Linked DNA regions of Homo sapiens: region 1 is linked to region 2. Evidence: fine-mapped expression QTL. A gene starts in region 2. The other region holds a variant in brackets. All regions are shown on one strand. Distances are between the middles of the regions. Region 1 overlaps PDE4B (phosphodiesterase 4B). Region 2 holds the start of PDE4B (phosphodiesterase 4B).

The links.
Region 1: its variant is fine-mapped to the expression of PDE4B in whole blood (TOPMed, PIP above 0.99).

Annotation. Positions count from the first base shown.
Region 1 is chr1:66,323,201-66,331,200 of GRCh38, reverse strand. All of the region lies in intron 7 of PDE4B (phosphodiesterase 4B), which reads right to left. Among named protein-coding and RNA genes, the nearest start is that of SGIP1, 210 kb to the left of the region's middle. The variant T/G (reference allele first, on the strand shown) is at 3,139.
Region 2 is chr1:65,786,618-65,800,059 of GRCh38, reverse strand. PDE4B (phosphodiesterase 4B) reads right to left here and starts at 7,165. Exons shown (of 17, transcript NM_002600.4): 1 at 6,812-7,165.

The sequences.
Region 1 (8,000 bases), 530 kb before region 2:
TATACAGAAATTCTAGCAAGACCACATGGTTTTTAAAAATTATTATATGAATAATCTTATGTCTGTGGTGTGCAAATACTTGAAGCAGAAAAGAGAATCAACAGAACTGTGATTCCAAGTAACTGGAATCACTTGGCCACAGACGCATATTTCAAAGAATAGTTGCTTTGTTTATCCCCGAAATATTCATACACTTCAAGATAAACAGGGGTTAAATTCAATATCCTGTATGTCATGCTTAAAAAGCCACAAAACCACTGGAGGTAACTTCCTCCATTTTTTTTTCACACTCTTCAAAAATGTGCAGACAAGAATTGAGGTGTTTTTAATAAAACTCATTTCAAGCCAGACTTACACATACCTTCCTTCCTTTCTTCATCTTCAATTTTGCAATGCTGCCTCAACACGAAGATTCTCTGACTTACTCTCTAGTGTGTCCGAAACAACCCCTTGCCTCCTCTGTTTGCTTCCAGAAGAGCACTTCTTCCAAGGAAGCCTTTTCTGAAGAGACAGAACCCTCCCATTCTCATTCCCTGCCTCTAATAAAGGAAAAAGTCCAACCACTTCCCAGCTGCTGGGGATTTACTACCTTCATGTCTTCCACATCACAACCTGTGGTTCTCTGTAACTAATATTGGACATTCACCAGGACGGTGGGGAGAAAGTAGCTTGCTCCTAGCCTTTTGAATCCACTGATATGCAAAATGACTGCAAGATGATACATCACATTTCTCCTTCATGCAGAGGAAAAAAGGGATCTGATTTCTATTCAAGCTTGACCAAGGAAATACATACAGTAATTATACCCGCAGAAGTACAAAAAAGAGAAGGACTCTTCAAAGATACACCAGTGAGCTCATTCATTGTCTACTGCATGGAACAAGCACTCAGGTACTTCTAGAGTTGGTACAACGTGAGATGTGGGTGAACAGGTAATGGATATGAAGAGACCTTGCTCCATTGTCCTCTCTTCTTCAGATCAGCCATCAAAATGTTTAAGCAAAAATTAATACATTTTGAAGCAATGTTAGTTAGGCTAGAGTATCACTTTCCAAATTCTTAATTCACAGTCAAGACTTTGTGTCCACTTTATAGTCTTCCTATCATGGCAACTAAGCCATGGGCACAGAGGTTAGAGTGTACTAAATAGGGGGATATCAAACACCTGCTACCTATGAATGCAATCAAAGAAAATGACCAGAGCAGCGCAGGACTGGCCTCCCTGATATAACTTTGTAGTTTTAGCACCTAGGAGATACTCAGTAAATAATTGGAGGAATGGAAACCAAATTGCCTAAGCATCCTACAAATACCTGGGCACCTGAAGGCTGAATGGTCCATCTGTAGCACTGTGAAAAAAAGCACCAGATTTGGAGTGAGAATCATGAATATTGACTTTCTCTTCTACCACTTACTGTGTGGTCCTAGACCTCAATTTCATACATCTGTAGAAGAAGGATAAAATATTTATCTCATAAAGTTATAAAGGGATTAAATAAGATAAAATATATGAAGTGCCTAGGATGGTAGCCAGTTCTTAGTAGGTGATAGATGCATAGGAGAATTACTAATGGCAATTGGAGAAATCCTAAGGCCTGGCATTGAAGGGTAGAAAAGAGTGTGAGGAAGAAAAGAAAGAGAGATAGCTGAATTGCACATTCAATAAGGGATTTTACAGTAAGAATCAGCTGCATAATTTGAAAGGCCCAGTACAAAATGAAAGTGCAGGGCCCCTTGTTGAAAAAGCAGTAAAATTGCTATAAAAGATACTAAAATATAAAGTTTTTTCCTTTCTTCTGCATTCTCTCTTTCAACTTGTCATGGTGGTTTTTTCTTCATATACTTTTTATTTTAAAATACTTTCAGACTGACGGAAAAATTGCAAAGATAACACAGGGGCTTCCCACATATCCCACATCCTAATTTCCCCATTGTTAATGTCTTACATTATTATGGTACACTTGTCACAATTAATGGTTTGGTGTGTTTAAATATTGTATTATTTCAGGCACTGGGATACCTTGAGGTGAGTGCAGACCCTCACAGCAACCTGAAGGCCCTGCCTCTTATGACTAAGGGCACGCACATAGCTCACCAGCAGCTGGCTACTCCTTCCTGATAGCCGCCAGACTGACAAGCTGTGTCCCCACCAGGCACAAGAGCTGGGGAAGTCGAATTAGGTATTTCTCCCTTCTCATGGTCCCCAAGCCCCTATCCACAGCAGACAACCCCTTGGATCTTAGCATACTGCTAAGGGTACTGCAACCTCTTAGCAGGGACATGCTGGGTACCTGAAACAGGGGTGGACAAGAGGTTCATCCCCATCAAGACCTGGCCTCTGTCTACCACAGCCATGCCAGCCCAGGGCAAAGACGGCTGCTAACATGTCCCATCTGAGGCTACAAAGCACATGTGGCTAACTCAGACCCTCCCTGTGCCTATACCCTGATTGGGGATGGAGGGCAGCAATGGTCACAAGTGCAGGTGGGAAAAAGGAAGCTGGACGATTCCTAGGGCACCAGCGAGCAGAGGAGAGGATGGTTAGGATCTTGTCCAGGGAGACAGGCAGGTGACAGGAAGTGAGGAAGTGCATGAGCCAAGGCTCCAAGCCACTGGCACATACTCCATTGTCCCATCAGACATCATTTATAAAACACAAGTTCAAAGATAGTATTATTACAAGTTTTAAGATGGCAAATATGGAGCCCTTCTGAGCATAGGGCCCTGTGCAACCCAACAGGTTACATGCCCATGAAACTGGGTCTCTTCCTGTCTTACATAAGATGGCCCTGAAAAGAAACAATGTTTAACACCACAGAAGCAAATCTCAGAGGCAGTAAGAGTAGGTCATGGGACCATGTATGGTCATGCAGTTGAACTTCGCTTTCAAAAACTTCCAGAGGGAAGAAGTAGGGAGAACCAACCTCCCTTCTCTTGCTCTCTTCTTTCCCTCTTTCACTCCAACAAGAGTGGCACAGAAAGATTTTCTTCCTTCTATAAGTTTGCTGGGTATTGCATTTGACTCTGAGAAACAGGAAGAGAAATTTAGTAAATAATTATAATATTAATCTGCTAATGATATATGGTATTCAAATAGCTCTTTTCTCAAAGGAGCTCCCAGCACACTATTCGTTAATC[T/G]TTGCAACATCTTTGTGTGATAGATACGGAAGTAGGATGATTATCTTATTTACCTTAAGGCATAAACTAAGAAATCAGAGATTAAATTATTAGAGCAAATAGTTCCCTCCAGATTCCTAGCAAGACTATATCTTGGTCTATGAAACAGAGGATTCAGTTTAGCACTGAAAGATGCACCTATTCCTGAAAATGCTGCATTTAAAGTTGCATCTTACCCTCGGATCTCTTCCATTTAAAATTGCATAACTGCTTTCCTAAATGTTGTCATTTCTGAAGTCTCCACTTCCCTTTTCTGATCTACCTAATGCACAGGGAAGCTGTGCAATATTTACTCAGAAGACCTGGTATGGTTCTTGTCCTGCATCTTGCTTCAGTGGGTTACCTTGGGTAAATTACCTATGTTCTCGAAGACTAAATTTATTTATCTCTAAAATGAGGATAAGAAAAATATCCTATTCTCATGGGAAAGGTAGAATCAGAGAATAAACACAAAAATGGACTGTAAACCTTTTAGTATTAAATATATTTTGCAAATATCTCATTTATTGTTACAGATGGGATATAGGCACATTTAGAAAAATAGAAAATTGCAGAGAAGCCAAAAATTCAAATGATAAAAAATCTCACATTTTTAGCAGTCAGAGATCACCATTGTTGACTCCTTTGTGCATGTCATGTATGTGTTTGTGTGTCTGTGTAAACATACATATGTATATAACATAAATAGGATCACATTGTACAAACTGCTGAGCAACATTCTTATTTTCAGTCAATGATCTTTTTATTTTTTTTCTGTTTCAATGATTTTTCAGTTAATCTAATACTTAGGTTCATAGACCAACTTCCCCAGCTTTTTAAATGCCAATCTAGTAGAAATGGGTGTGTGAGTTAGCAGAGTCCTGTTGGGAAGAGGGAGAGATCCAGAGAAGAGTGACAGGAAAGGGTAATTAGAAACCTCTGCCTGGCCACAAATAGCTAGTTGCTCATAGTTAGAAAACATGGGGACACATTTTAGCAGTTATGAAATCAGTGGCCCCACTGGTGAAAGACCTCAGGTGCCCTAAAAGCTGGCCCTGCAATCTGTGCAGGGAAGTGTAATCTTATGACTACACTGATCTCTTGGAAAAGTAGGCACAGGGGCCCTTTATGTATCTGGCATCATTTAACTTTGAAACCTTAAGTCTCATGGCTTGTAATACAGTTGAGAAAACTGAGGCTGAGAGGAAAAAATGCTCTGCCCTCAATTACACATGATTAGCAATTGAAAGCATCACAATATTACCCAAATATAAATTTCCTATAAATTATATCTAAATGATATTCCAACATATCTCTATATATCAGAAACTTATCTGTCAAGTCACCCACACTTTCTATCCACAGAAAGCACACAGAAAAGAGCTGTACATAACCTTTATGGGCCTCACATAATTGGACTCCCTTTCTATTAGAGAAGGTGGTAACTATTTGCAAAGTTATTCTAGTGGCTAAAACAATTGGACCAATTGCCACATGCAGCAACAGGAATGAATATCATAAACATAAATGTGGAACAAAGGAAACCAAATATTAAAATGTATATGAAAAAATAGTATGGGTCAAATTCCATAAAGTTCCAAAGAGGCAAAAACTAATCTATAGTAATAGAAGTCAAGATATTGGCTACCTTGTGGGCTTAGTGACCAGGAGGGACTTGAAGGGCTTTCTATAGGGTTGGCAATGATCTATTTCTTGGTCTGGGAACTGGTTACATAGGTATGTTCACTTTATAAGAACTCACTGATTTCTAAACTTGTGATTTGTGCACTTTGCTGTCTTTCTGGTTGTCCATGTAGGCTTTCAACAGATAGTCCCATCTAGGGGAAGCCCAGTTTAAAAAAACAAGAGCAGAATTTCTAAAAAACATTTCCTTTCCTTTTGTTTAGCTATAACAATGGGTATCAACAGAGTTTGAGTAAATCTCACATAGCTAAAAAACAACGACAAATGTTGGTTTTAATGTGACATAGACCAGGATGCCCTACTAACTCAAAATTCAGTGGAACACAGTAGAGTCTGCCCCAGCTGTTTATAAATCATAACTGTGCCATTTAATAGCAATGTGCCCTTAGACAAGAAAAGTAGCCCACTGTGCTTCCATTTCCTCACCTGTAAAACAGGAAGATAGTTTAAACTAGGTGTGAGAATTAAGTGAATCAGTATACGCCAAGCCTTTGGTACAGCATCCGGCACGTGTCAGGAACTTCTCCCCTCCTTCCCACCACTTCTCTGGTCCTGGGTCACTTTCCTGATGATATATTGACATGTATTTGACAGCTGAGTCATTGACAGAGTTTTGATTTGGCCCTGGGAAAGGAAGCATTTGTAAGGTTGGCCATGAAATCCTAAAGCGTCCTTCCCACTGTAGGACTTCAGAAAAATGCATTCTTGACATTTGTCTTAAGTTAGAGACTGTTGGTTTCCACTTCTAAAATATAGAGCTGACCTGATGGATCGTTTTTTCACAAAATTCTAACTGACATACCAGGTCAGTGGCCTTTCAGATGTGGAGAATTGTATAGGGAAGTTGTTTGTTCATTCATTCAGCAAAAGTACACTGAGCATCTGCTATGTGCCAAGCCTGCTGCTGGGTGGGTGCTGGATTACAGCAATGAACAATACACTTCAGGAGTGGTATTGTCCATTGTAGCGAATGATTATATTGGAAATCCCTTTTCCTTGTATAAATAGTAAGTCTGTGAAGCTAGGCGCCTTCTCAGCTTCCTCCCATAATCTTCTGATCTTTGTAAATGAGAAGTGTGTATTAATTGGATTATTTACATTCAGCTTTACTTTTAGCTTCATTCACAAGCTTCTAGCCCTGTAGATGTCTTACGTTTGGGTTGCTCCTATGGCTCTACATGCCTTTAAGTTAGCATACTTACTCCATTCTTCGGTTCCTTCCCATAGTGCAATAAGTACTTGATAAAATGTAAAATAGTTTCATACATATAGGAATTGGCATCTCTTTATGCAAAGGTGTTAGGTTGAGGCTACTGGCCTATTTATCTATTTATTTGGCAATCTTGGTTGTGATTTTTTCCCTTAGAGTTAGATATAATTTTTCTTCATCATGAGTTATTATGTCCAAATATATAATATTTGGTAAATGAAGCACACTCAGGTTAGAGTGCAACATTTCAAGAGGGCATGTTATTTTAACCTTGGGTAAAGTATCTATGGAACAAATCATAAGAACAGGAGAACATGTACACACTGCAATGCAATTCTTCCAAGACCAAAGTTTGCAAGCCCTATATAGCCTTTCTTTAGGCAGAACTTTGTTAGCATGTCTTTATAGATATGGAACTTTGCAATTGCATATGACAGGGATTTCACTCTGGGTGGATTCATAAAAGAAGAGGTTCACTGCCCTTAAGGGAAATAACAGTGAAAAGTAGGTCATTTTGATGCCGATCTCTTTAGCAAATTCCTCTAAGACTACAAGTAAAACAAAACTTCTAATCACAACTGGCTCTTATATATATAACTTGACAGTTTACCAAGCACTTTCACTTGCATATCTCATTTTTTTCCTTGAAAAATAACCCCAAGAGAGAAATTATTATCATTATGACATACATTTTCCATTATGAATGTGAGAAAATTGAGGCTTGGATGCATTTAACAATTTGCTCAAAGTGATATGATGCGGCTGGGAGGGAGGGAGGCAAAGAAGAAGGACAGAGAGATTGAGAGGGGAAGATGGGAAAAGGAGGGAGAATGAAGGAGACATTTTAATTATATTGATTGACATATTGATTCTAAATTCCATAACTTTTTTGCTAAACCACTGGGCCTGTTATAAATAAATGGTCTAAGTTTCTCTTTCTTTTACAGAGATAGGCTTAGTCAAGGCAAAACTATGTCTTTGATGTGCCAGCCTCATAGCACTGTTTCCTTTTGGTCTACCTCCCACTCTTTTAATGTCCTTACCCTTAGGAAAACCTGCTCTCCAGAACTCTGCCTTTGGCATTTATATGCTAACGAGAATCTGTTCTCATCCAGCTAAAACATGTACCACCAATGTGAAGGGATGTTCAAAGAACTTAATTATCTACCTGTATTGGTATTGAAGACCAATGACACAAGAAAGTGATAGGGATAGAGGCAAGCTGCTGTCCAATTATTTTTCTAACAAAGTAAATATATTGACAAAATATTTATGAAGGATATAGAGCAGTGATTAAAAGCTTGGTCTCTGGGGTTAGACTGCCTTGGTTCATATTCCAGTACCACCACTTACTGTTATAAAACTTTGTTACATAAGATGTTACTTCTCTGTGCCCCAGTTTCCTCATCTGTGTAATGAGAATAATAATAGTATCTATTTTAATGGGCTGTAGCATCTGGTTAACAAATAAATAAATGTAAAGTGCTTAGGACAGTGCATGGTACATTACAAGTACCAGATGAATGTTGGCTATTATTTATTGAATATGATACGATAAATAATTAATGAGTAAAATTTTTGAGTGCCTATTATGTTGTAGGCACATCATGAAACTCTAAGGGTATAGTGCTGAATATTAGGTTTTGCTTACTTGAAGCCTATATCCTAAGAGGAATAGAAAAATAATTATGCAAAAACTTAGTACAACTTGGAACAGAGATACTAAGAAGTGTAGAATGCTATAAACATTTATAATAGGGATAACCAGGGACCCAAAATCTGAAAAGTGGGATGTGAAGGAAGGCCTGCCTTGGAAAGTTATGAGATTTTGAGGAATAAGAATTAAGTGTCAAGGGAGAGGAAAGTATTCCAGGCAAGGGGAACATCAGAGTATGCTCATGAACGCAGACAGGGAAAGACTGATAGGAGA
Region 2 (13,442 bases):
CTGCTTTAATCTTTCTTTTTTCAGCCCTTAACATTTGATATAGGTGAAATTGGTTTTAAATGACCACTAAAGCAATCTTATCAGAAAAAGAATGATCTCAAAAGGACACTGTTTCTCCATATAGTAAGAAGGTGAGAGCAGAAAGAAACAGATGGAGAATCTTTCTAAGGAATCTTAATATATGTTGTAAGTGTATGTGTGTGTGTTATGGGGGAGGAGAGAGCAAGCACTGTGGGCTGAGTTCCCTGTTTGTATTTCGCACAGTCAGTCTGTTTGAACACCTGCTGGTCCTGCTACATCCTTCTCACCTACTGCCACTCTAGAATCTGCAGGGAGACAAATCCTGCAGTATACCAATGTAGCATGCCCAGGACAACTGTCACCATCCACAGGCCTTTAAGGCTGACCCAGACTATAAAATAAGTCATTATCCCTATCACTTTCCCCAACAAAGACAATCCACAGTTAGTGCATGAGTATAACACAAAACAGTATCTGGAGGTCTTTCCTAGGAATCCATAAATACTTAATATTGAATGCAAATTTTTGACTATATGTTCATTTTTCTGGATAATTAATCCATATGTCCCTCAGATTTTCAAACAAGCCTATTTTTATTTAAAAAAATCATGTCCTCCCAACTTATTGAAGTAGTTTTTCTTGTTAAAAAAGGGGTACTGAGAGATTATACCTCAAAATAAATTTTTAATAAGCCTTCTCAAAGGAAGGCAATTCTGATTTCTTAAAGAAAATATCAAATTAGGAAATTCTAAGAACTCAGAATAAACAAGCCCTGCCATCACTGAACTGAAGGAACTTAGATTTCCTTATGGCTTTTTAACATGTCAGTTTTCTAAAATATAAAACAATAAGGTTGAAATAGGTGATCTCTAAGATCACTTTCAGTTCTGAAAATGCCATAATTCTATGAGTCAGCACTGTGATATACTAGGAGAGCCAAAGACAGAATCCTGGTATCTGCTCCTTAATCCATTCAAAATATCAGCAAGTTGCTTATGGAAATAATGTCATTTACTTTCTCTAAGGTTAAAGTGTCCACAGGATAAAGGATTTTTTAGCCTTTCCCACAAAGATGGCAATAAATAAGAAGTACTAATATTTTTCAAATGCATTAAGATAACTTGAAAAAAAAATGTTCCATAGAGTAAACGTCACATACCAAGATTTTTGTCTTAGACTCTACAGACAGGGTATGATTTGACATTTAATTCTGTAATTACAGTAATATTAATTAACTTAATTTAAATAAGCTATCTTGAACTAAGGTTTAAACTATGTCTCCACACCTAACAGATATATATTACAGGGAAATACAATCAAACTAGTATTTTCAATGATAGTAATGGATAATGTGGTTGAGGATTTAAACTAGAGTGTTTTTAAAAAGCCGGGTGCAGTGGCTTACGCCTGTAATCCCAGCACTTTGGGAAGCCAAGACAGGTGGATCACTTGAGGTCAGGAGTTCAAGACTAGCCTGGCACGGCCGGGCGCGGTGGCTCACGCCTGTAATCCCAGCACTTTGGGAGGCCGAGGCGGGTGGATCACGAGGTCAGGAGATCGAGACCATCCTGGCTAACAAGGTGAAACCCCGTCTCTACTAAAAATACAAAAAATTAGCCGGGCGCGGTGGCGGGCGCCTGTAGTCCCAGCTACTCGGGAGGCTGAGGCAGGAGAATGGCGTGAACCCGGGAAGCGGAGCTTGCAGTGAGCCGAGATTGCGCCACTGCAGTCCGCAGTCCGACCTGGGCGACAGAGCGAGACTCCGTCTCAAAAAAAAAAAAAAAAAAAAAAAAAAAAAAAGACTAGCCTGGCCAACATGGTGAAACCCCATCTCTACTAAAAAAAATACAAAAATTAGCCAGGTATGGTGTTACACACCTGTAATCCCAGCTACTTGGGAGGCTGAGGCAGAAGAATTGCTTGAACCCGAGAGGCAGAGGTTGGAGTGAGCCGAGATGCACCACTGCACTCCAGCCTGGGTGACAGAGCGAAACTCCATCTCAAAAAATAAATAAATAAATAAATAAATTTTTAAACATTTTTAAAATTAAAAAATAAAAATAATGCAAGGGGCATCCCAAGGAGGACTGAGAATGGTGGCAAGAGGGAAATGGACTGCTTAGTGACCTCTAGGCTGGAGGAACAGTAGAGCAATAGAGCAGTGGATGTCTTCCAACTCTCTATTCAACAGCAGATTACCCAGGCCCAGAGTCTCCCGACTCCTAACCTAGTAGTAGGAAATGATCTAGGTAGGCTCATTCCTTGTCTGCATCTAACTGGGGTCCATTTGACAATACTAGGTGGCCTCAGAGCACTGGCACCAGGAATCCTGCCACAAGTTCCAGGTCTAAGAATGCTCCTTATTTCTGCAAGGCTGAAAGTCACTTAGAGACACTTCTCTAACCTAGAGGCACAACAGGGCCTGGCCTGGGGAGGCTTCTTCTTCCCCTTCAGGTGGCACCAGCAGCGTTCAGTGGGAGCCCCGGAAGCACCAGACAAACCAGGCAGACTAACAGCACCTCAAAGCCTCTAGAAATTAAATTGTCATTGAAACCACTGCCCACAAAAGTAGGCCAGGATCTGTGTGTTACCCTAAACAGAGTGATTATCTGTTAAAATACAAGATTTAAATAGAAACCCAGAGCCTTCTAACACAATAGCTAAAATGTCCAAAATATGACCACAACTTGAATGAGAAAAGACAATCAAGTGACACCAACAATTAAGTGAATCAGATGTTGGAATTATCTGACAAAGATTACAAAGCATTTATTCTAAAAATGTTGGCCGGGCGCAGTGGCTCACACCTGTAATCCCAGCACTTTGGGAGGCCGAGGCAGGTGGATCACGAGGTCAGAAGATCGAGACCATCCTGGCTAACATGGTGAAACCCCGTCTCTACTAAAAAATACAAAAAAATTAGCCAGGCGTGGTGGCGGGCACCTGTAATCCCAGCCACTCAGAAGGCTGAGGCCAGAGAATGGCGTGAACCTGGGAGGTGGAGCTTGCAGTGAGTGGAAATAGTGCCACTGCATTCCAGCCTAGGCAACAGAGCGAGACTCCATCTCAAAAAAAAAAAAAAATGTTTCAGGCTAGACACGGTGGCTCAAGCCTGTAATCCCAGCACTTTGGGAGGCTGAGGCAGGCAGATCATGAGGTCAGGAGATCGGGACCATCCTAGCCAAAATGGTGAAACCGCTTCTCCACTAAAAATACAAAAAATTACCTGGGCATGGTGGCACGCACCTATAGTCCCAGGTACTCAGGAAGCTAAGGCAGGAGAATCGCTTGAACTCAGGAGGCAGAGTTTGCAGAGAGCCAAGATCATGCCACTGCACTCCAGCCTGGGTGACAGAGTGAGACTCTGTCTCAAAAAAAAAAAAAAAAAAAAAGTTTCAGCAAGCAAATACAAATTCTCTAGAAACTAATGAAAAAATAGAATGTCTCAGCAAATAAGCATAAGCTGCAAAAAGAACCAAATGGAAATTATTGAGTTGAAAAATATAGTAATCAAAATAAAATACTAGATGGGCTCTGTAGTAGAGAAGACAGAGGACAGAATCAGCGAACTTGAAAACAGACCAATGAATGTTTTCTATTTGAACAAAGAGAAAATACCAGAAAAAAAAATGATGAACCAAGCCTCGGGGTCTTGTAGGACAACAACAAAAGATCCAACTTTCATATCATCAGAGTCACAGAAGCAGATAAGAAAGAGAGTGGGGCTGAAACACTTTTGTGTTTGAAGAAATAATGCCTAAGAATCTCCCAACTTGGTGAAAGACAAACCTACATTTTAAAAACTTCATCAAATCCCAAACAGAGCAAACCAAAAGAAATTCATGCCAAAACACATCATAATCAAACTTCCAAAAAATGAAGATATAGAAAATATTCTTGAAACTCTCCAGAGAGAAATGACGCATTGTGTATAAGGGAACGTCAATTCAAACAACAACAAATTTCTCATTGAAACCAGGGAGGCCTGAAATGAAGTGACATAACATTTTTCAAGTGCTGGAAGAAAAAGAAACTGTCAACTATAAATTCCTTCCACATATGCATCTTCTATATCATATTTGATGGTTGAAACACCACATTTCAAAAGACCAATGGATTAAAACTGGCAAAATGAATGTATGGGGTAAGAACATAGTCACAGGTGGGTTTCCCTGGCAAGCTAATTCTGAAATGAAGTTCAAAGCCCTATTTTCTTGGGAACCGCCTTGTTATCCACACCTGAGGAAGGATGGGGAAGGAAACAGAAAGGACCAAAGAGAGAAGTAGAGCTGCAATGCAAGCCCTCAGGGAGCTCCAGAGCTAGAAAGATCCTTCAGAGTTTTCCAGAGTTGTGCTGCAATGGCCCAACCTTTATACTCCCACATGGATCAGCCATTGGATGTGAGCTGCGCTGGAAAGGGGTGTGACCTTGGACAAGGGAGCTTTCTACAGCTCAGGCAATCCCTGAAGAGTCTGACTATTGAAGGCCATCTGTTGACCACACTCCCAGAAGCTGGGGCAACAAGTCCCTCCTTGAAGAACGATTTGGCACATCACAGTGTCCACTGTATTACCACATGGTGGCTACAATAGCCAGTGCCTGAAGGAACTCATTTGTTTTGTGGTCAGCAACATCCTAAACCTTGTCCAAACTATGCTGTTTGAAGGTTTTTGGAAATAGAAATGGGTGAAATTGTATGACATGATAATAAATTACTAACCACCAAATCTTTCTAACTGAAGACCTCTTCATATACCTCTTGCTCCTTAGCCAAATTAAGTCAAGTAAGATATTAGGAGTAACCTAGAACTCTTTATTTCTTCACAATTTTAAATATTGCATTTGTAAACCAAAATGGAATTATTATTTCTGTGTCCAGTATCTTTATCAAACAAGCCTTTATTTGTACATACACAGTAACTATTACTGTTAAATACTTAAATACCTGTCTCTAGACAGGCAAAGGACTCCAAGATCAGAAAACCATGTATGATTGATTTCTTATTCCTCAAATCAAAAAACAGTCCTATTTTGAAAGCAAACAGTATGTCTAACAGGTTACTCTCTAGAGAAATTTAAGACAATTCATTTTTGCAAAATATGTCAAGCCATAAAGAAACTGAAAAGCAAATCAGCTGATAAAAATACAAGTAGACACACTGCAACATTGTTTAGCTCCCAACTGTAACAAGAAAAATAGAAAGATGATAGATATATAGATAAACAGCCTCAATGCATCGATCATGCCATCTCATAAATTCCAGTCCATTTAACAATCTTACTTATTTTTTGTAAATTAACAAAATTGGCACGTTGTTGTTTAGAAAATGAAAAAGAATAGAAACAGCCAGCAAACATATTACAGTCAAGTCCTACAAGTATTGATTTGAAGAGCTGAAGAGACCAATGCTATATTTATTGACATTAAGGGGATTTCTCTCTTGGGATACCAAGAAATGAGGTATCCTGAGAGAGAAGAAGCTCAACTTCCTTTACCTGCAGTGAAATCATTGGCCTTATCTATCTTCTTGTGAATTCATGTACAGATAAATTCTAGACCCCTACCTACACTTCAGGTTGTAGGTAAAAACACTGAAATCTCCAAATTTGTTTCGTTTTTATGAATATAATTGGTATAATAACAGCTTTTGGCAAAAGGAAACGGAGGGGGAGTATGATCTACTAATAAAAATAGTATCTGGACATTTATTACTTTTTTTATGCTTAATGTGCCTTTCATTCTTATAACTTAGCCAAGAGTTTTCCAGCAGCTGGAAATCTTTGAAATTAAACGATGCATGTGATTCAAAGAACAGTTATATCTCAGATCTAAGATGCAGAATGCATAGAGTTACCATTTCTGTTCAGTGGCATCATATAATTATGATGTAAACCTAATGTAAGTACAATGTAATTTTAGGTGACCGTCTCAAAGTCTTGCTAAAAATTATCCCAGGCACGTGTGTGACACACACAGACACACACACACACATATATAACTACTGTAATTAAGAGCGATTCTTCTGTGCGCTCCTCCTTATACACGCTTTAAAGCTGTTGGCCATAGTGGGTTCCGATTTGTGTTTGAAGTACCGCACAAGGAAGGTGGCCTGTGAAAAACGGGAAGGAAGGAGGCAAAACAGGAAGATGGAAGAAGAGAGTAGGCATGAAGGAAAGTGACAGGAGAAAGGAGGAGAGCCTCTTCCTTCCCCAACACACTCTTGTAGCTAGAAAGGTCCAAGCCCCCTCACCAAACACCAGACAAATCTTCCCAAAAGTTCCTGGCAGAGCCTTGGTGATGCCGAGGCTTGAGTGCGCCCCTCCTTGGTGCCCCAGCCACCAGGGCACGCAGGAGCATCCTGGAGCCTCAGCCCAGCAAACTCTTGGGTAGTTCAGGTTCCCTTCCGCGCCCGCTGCCTGCAGTCAATCACTGGGCACCGCGCGCCCATCCGTCACCTACTCCAGGGCTTCCAAGCCCTGAATCCTTCTGCCTCTCTCCATTCTCCCTTAGCCTCTCTCCATCCTCTCCTCCCCAGTGACTTGTCAAGAGGTCCAAGGGCGGAAGCCGAAGCAGAGAAGATGAGGGCGAAAGGCTAGGGGCCGGTTGGCGGATTTCCTACAAGGGGCGACAATGACGCCGTCAAGACGACCATCCAGGCCCGGCGGCCCCATTCCCTCTTTGCCCCACATCAGCCCCACAGCACCCTACACTCTCCATTGAGGCTTCAGTGTGTGATGAAGTAAGAGAATGAGGAAAAATAAACCCGCAGCCTCCTAGGCAGCCCTTACCTCAGGCTGCCCTCGCAGAAGCCGCCCTCCTCCTGCCCGAGGCGCCTCTGCTGCACCGCCGCGGCCGCAGCGCTCTGGACGCCGGGGCTCCGCCCGGCGCGGGTAGACCATGCGCTGCGAGTGAGCCTTCCGCGCTCCCGGGGGTGGGGGACGAAAGTCTGCCCGGAGGGCGCTCGCGTGCAGCCCGGCCCGCGACGAAGAGCCTGCAGCCGCTGAGGCGAGGCCAGGAGCCCCGGGAAGGGGCGCGCGGGCCGGGGGCGCGCGCGCGGACGGGCCAGCGGGCTAGCCTGGGGAACCCGCGCCAGGGAGACACAGGCGCTGGCGACGCGCCCCTCAGCTCTTCTCTCGTCCTCTGGCCCTTTAAACCCCCTCTCCCTACTGTCCACCCCCGCCCCCCGGAAGAGAGACAGCTCGCCGGTGCCACTTGGTCTGCCGCGCTGCGCTCCTCAGCCGGGTGCGGGGAATAACAATGTGACCGTATCGCACGGACGAGATGCTGTGTAGTAGGTTGTAACTGCTGAGGCCACCACCTGTCAATTCTAGGGTGCAAAGCACGCCGTCCCCAGTCGTCTGGCCTCTCCCTGATTGCCCTCCCAGGTTATTTTTTCCCCCACCTACCTCACAGACCTCCTGCAATATTCCGCGGGCACGGTACCAGGGGAGTTTTGCAAAATAACCCTCTCTCCCAGCCGGGAGCTCACTGCATCTCCCTTACCACCAGAGCTGAAGGATTACGCACAGCCCTGCGTGCCTATCCAAAGCCAGAGACCGAAAATCCTGGTTTGAACCCCACACTCGCCGGCCCCCCAGCCCCCATTCATAATCCCAGCGGCCGTCTGCCACTACACACCCTCCCCCGGCCGCCCGCGCTCTTTCCCATTCGCCGTCCCTGGAACGTGTCAGTCACTCGCTGTGCATCTGCCATGAATACAAGACGAAGAGCTCTGCAGCTACTGGCTGCACAAAGAGGGACTGGGGCGCAGGGGACGCAGACCCCCGGGTTGGGGGAGGCGAGAGAGCCAGCGGGGCACATTACGTGGAAGGAGCCAGTGGGACCGTGGGAGTCCTCTGGTCTCCTGTTGCACAAAGGAGCGCCAGAGTGAATACGCGCAGTGCTCCTGAACCAACAGGTCAGATCACCTCCCAAGAGGTGCTCCACCAAGACACCCCTGAAGGTGAGTCCCACAACTTGGGAATTCGTGTGATGGAGCAACAGGCACTCAGTAACCTGACTGAGCCTGCTTTAAAAATGCAACAGGATGGAGAGAGAGCGAGAGCGAGAGCGAGAGAGAGAGAGAGAGAGAGAGAGAGAGAGTGTGTGTGTGTGTGTGTGTAGAGTGGGAGAGGTATGCTGGAAAGCACAAGTTTCCTTTTCCCCGGTTGTCCAGCCCTTTCAGTCAGAGAAAAAAAGAAGGAAGCTGGCAAGGAAAAGAGGAGGAAGATAGGCATGAAGTAACTTTGCCTATCCAACTACTACAGTAGCTAGAGACCAAAATGACTTTAATAGACAACATTCGCCTGTTTCTCGATTTATTCCAATAAACATCATGCACACCTACTGTGCACTGAGCACTTTGCAGAAGCTAAGGATGCAGAGTCGATTAGGACATAGTCTCTGCACCCAAGGAGCTCACTGCCTAATAGGAGAACCAACTATGAAAGCCCGAGACAAACAACACAAGTATTTCACAACAGAAGCACATGCCAATTGCATAAGTGGAAGCAATTTTTTCTATGTAAGAGAAGGAACAGGTCAGGGAATTTAAATCCCATCTGAACTGTGTATTAAAGGACAAATAGGGACCTCCCAAAGAAGGGCAATAACCTAATAACCTACTATTCACCCATTCACCCAAAATAGCTTTACATGCCTGTACATTGAAAGGCATGTCTAAGAGCTTATCAGTGTAGGAACTTAATGAACTTTCCCCTTCATGGTTTTGGAGGAAACATATTCAAACACTAGCGTTTGGAGTATAAAACACCTATTTCCCCACATCTGAGATGCTACCAAGTGTTCGCTGGTTATTCTGCCTTTTTGGACCTGTTGCTTACACTATACCATCTACCTCATCCATAACCTTGAAATTGAGCCCAAAGCCAAAATTAATAATAGTGAGGCAATAAGCACCTGAAAGGAAGCCAACAAAATCCGCAATGTAGTCATTGTTCTCACAGTTTTCATCTGTAAAATGATGATAATGGAATCTCTTTTTCTGAACTACAGTTAGGATTAGTTAGATGTATTAAATATAAGGCAACCATTGCCTAAAGAGAGTGTAAGGAATCTAAATTGTAGTTCAATCTAGGGGAAAAAAAGAACCAATTTGAGCATCATGCTGCCCCTTTTTGAATATGAGAAATTTGAAAGGTATTAATAATTACTAAGCCTCCCAAGGTTATTACATCATCTTCAGAAAAATGTGTCCAAAGAGTTCTTACTGCAAAAAGAATTATATACGGATTCCAGTAGAAAATGATGTCAGCTTTTTAAGCATCTTTCTCATCTCTTTCTAAAAATTACATAAACTAACAAAGAGAATGGAAAAAAACTGTCAAACACCATTTTCAACAAATTTATATAGATTTTACCTACAAACCCCAAAGCGCTTCTAAAGGTTACCAAAAGCAGCTGAGTTTGGGCAGAAGTCATATGGAAAAGGCCCAGGGAGAGGCAATGGGAACCAGCACTAGAAGTATCAGAAAGTGCCAGCAAAAGTATGTTTTCTGGGAAATGAGAGGTGTGTCGTAAAATGCAAAGCTGTCTCTCAAAAACTGGAGCAGAAGCAGAAGGAAGAAGGCAAAAGAGATACATACATACAGATGACAAAAGGAGAACAGGGAGTTCCCAGAAACATGGTAGGAGCAGATCTCAGGGTCAGCAAAACTTTAGTGCTTGAAGATGGTCAAATCACTATGAAATGTAAAAGTCCTGTTCCTTCTTTTTAAGAACTGGGGAGCAGAGAACTACTGGAAAAGGATCTTCTGGACATAATTCCCTTCAGAGTCTCAGAGGAAGTGAGTATACAAAGATGCCATAACTACTAAAAGCAGTCTGTTTGTGAGGCAACAGTAAAAGTGAATCCATAATCTATTGCTGCATAACAAGCCACCCGAAACAATGGTTTAAAAAGCTACCAGTGATTTGCCTACAATTTAGTGAGATGGAAAATTGGGATGGGCTCAGCTGTGTGGGCTCAATGGCTAATCTCTGCCCCATGCGGTATCAGCAGGTCTTACTCACAAATCTGGGCCTCTGGAAGGGATGGCTTGGACACCTAGGGCCTTTTCCCAGGAAGCTAGTCAGGCTTTTTCACATGGAGGTAGACATGTTCCCAGTAGCAAGAGAAATGGCAGCCTAGTGTTCATGCTGTAGTGTTCACACACTTTCAAGTTTCAAGCTTCTGTATGTGTTGTGTTTGTTAATGTCCCGTTGGCTAAAGCAAGTCATGTAGCTAAGTCCAGAGTCAATGTGGGAGTATTTTATGGGCATGGGTAGAGGGAGGTGTCAATTATTGGGGATCATTAAGTGGGAGCTATTTGTTTTGAGAACAGGAAAGCCACTTTGCAACCTCCACTTCAGGAACTTTCTCTAAGGAATTTGACCAGAAAAATAATTCATTCAATAGTGAGCAGTGATAAAGAAGAAACTGGCATAACACAGATACAGACATACTATTTTTAAAATTCAGAAAATTAGCATCAAAACTTTTTAATAGATGAGAGGAAAAAGTGTTGTCACAGAGACAATTAAAATTGTGACTATAAATTTCGAAATGCAAGAAAAAAACTAATAATACTTTAGCATAGTATTTACTGTTGCCAGGCAATATTCTTACCACTTTGTAGAGATATGAACTCAACTGATTCTCAACACAACTCTGTAAATTAGATATTGTTATTATTATTACCATTATATAGATTTAAAGACCTAAGGGACAAGTTAAGTAACACTCAAGATCACACAGTTAGAGGAAGACCCCGTATTTAAACACAGTTAATCTTGTTCTAGAGTCTTTGCTCTTATTCATAAGCAGCATAGTTTCTCTAAATTAAGCATATTTGTTGATATGTTAAGAAATAAACATCATCTATTAAGGAAAACCAAAAGGCACAAATGAAGAAACTCAAGAGAGAGATGAGGAGGATGAAATTAGTTGATTTTTTTAGCAGAAAGAAGAAGAAAAGCAAACCATGACAGAAATGAAGACAATATTGGAAGAAATACAAAAAAGGACTAAGTATTGCAGATAAGTAAGACATAGCAAATAAAAGTATTTGTGTGAAACTGATAATGATAGATGAAATACAACACACATATAATTGGAGTCTCTAAAGAAGAATGGGTGCAGCACACCAGCATGGCACATGTATACATATGTAACTAACCTGCACATGTTGCACATGTACCCTAAAACTTAAAGTATAATAATAATTTTAAAACAAAAAAAAAATCACCCAGAAAAAAAAAGAAGAAAACCTTATCAGTGGAACAGAGCAAATGTTTAAGCAAAATTTTTAAAAAACTTTCTTGAAACTGATAAAAAAAAGACTTCAATCTACATGTTCAAAATAAATACCATGTAGTAGAAAAAAATGATTCATGATGGTTGAACAAAGAAATATACTAACAAATTATTGAGTTTTATATATATGTAAGGAACCTTTGAAGCAGAAAAGAAAAAAAAATCAATTCTTGTAGAAAGAAAAAGAAATCAACCTACCCTCAGTCTTCTTGAAAGCAACATTCAAAGCCTAATGACAATGGGCTTTTGTTCCAATGAGAATGGAAACAAAACTTATTATATTCTCATGAAAAAAAATAATGATCTAAGGATTTTATATCTGGCTAGTTATTCATCATATATAAATGTCATATTTTTAAACATTAAAACTCAAAGAATATTCCTCCCATAAGGGGATATACTAGAATAAAAAAGGGAAAACTTTCTCAAAATGACTGGTGGTGAACACCAAATATATTTTTACTGTAAAACTAATACTACAAAAAATGTTTGAATGTTATAGGTTTTGAAAATATAGAAATGACACAAATCACAAATGTTAGGAAGGGAAAGAAAAAAGATGGTGGTAATTAGAATAAGTTCATTGACTGACTCACCTGTAACTGTTGAGGTTGAAAATGTCATTTAAAGCTGACATACAAGTAGTAGAGTAAGCACGCATAACATAAAAAGATAAACACTAAGAAATGTAATTTTTAAACAAAATATGACAGCTGATAAAATGCAGTATAGGAAAAAGAAGAGGATACATACCAATTTATCATTGCTCATAACTGTTATATCCAAAACAATAGAGAATATGAGTATATAAAGATGGAATTATAAAGGTAGCAGCTGGAGAGCAAATTTGCACCTTAGTGCACACCTTGTTAAATGTCAGAGGAACCATAAACTCATGCGCATGTGTATAATCACACACGTATCCATGTATATATCAAAGAATTGTGACAAATATTTTTCAATCAATACACATTTTAAGCTATTTTTTAAAAGCATTTTCAAATTGCATTAAAACCAAAACTCCATGCTATATATAAGTACACATTGGAAAAAAAAGGTTCAGATGGTTGAAAATTAAAGGAAGAGCAGAGTTTTACCCAAATAATGCCCCTGCACATTCCCCCCACCCAAATACATGGAAAAGGAATAATAATAATATAGCAGTACTTATGACTTTAATTTCAGACAAGTTGGACTCAGGACAAACAAGTATTAAATAAAACAAAGAAAAGCACTTTATGATAGAAAAAGTAAAAATCACAATGAAGATGTGAAATTTATAAATATCTATGAACCAAATACATAGCAGAAATTTGTATATACAAGTTTTATTACAAGAGATATAAAGACATATGGAAAGTAACAGACCAAAAATAGGACAGTTTTACTCATCTCCCTCAGTCAAACTCTACATATATCAGACTTTGTGCCTCAAAAGTAGAGATTACATATTCTTTTTAAGGGCTAATATTATATTCATAAAAATTGCCATTTATTAAACCATAAAGATAAAATGCAAAAATAGGAAATTATGGACAACACTATATGATCACAATTCCATAAAAACAGAAATTAATAGAAAAATCAGAAAAATAAAAATCTTTCCACGTGAAAATTCTAAACAAAAAACTCTCTTAAATAACTTTATGAACAAAAATTGTAGGATTTCTTGAAAATAATGAGGTATGAAAACACTACTGAATAGAATTCCGTGATACAGCTTAAGCTTAATTCATGAATTATGCACCAACTCAAAAAGTTAGAAAAACAACTATTAAATAGAAGAAAACTAAAAAATATTAAACAATTTAGAAGAATTAATAAATGAGTTAAGAAAGGAAGGTGATTAGAGCTAATGTGTAATTTGAAAAGCCAGCCTTTTTAATATTTAAAATAATTGTTAAATTAATAAAAAAAATAAATACAAAGTAAGAAATTATAAGGGGTTAAACATAGAAATAAAGAATGTTAATATAATTCTAAAGACTACTTTAATCTGTTATAATGTTCTTCAACCATTTTTTCATTTTTGCTTCACAAGAAAATTTTAATTTAATTTTTCCCTAATGAGAATTAGAATATCTCCGAATTGTAATATCGGAGAT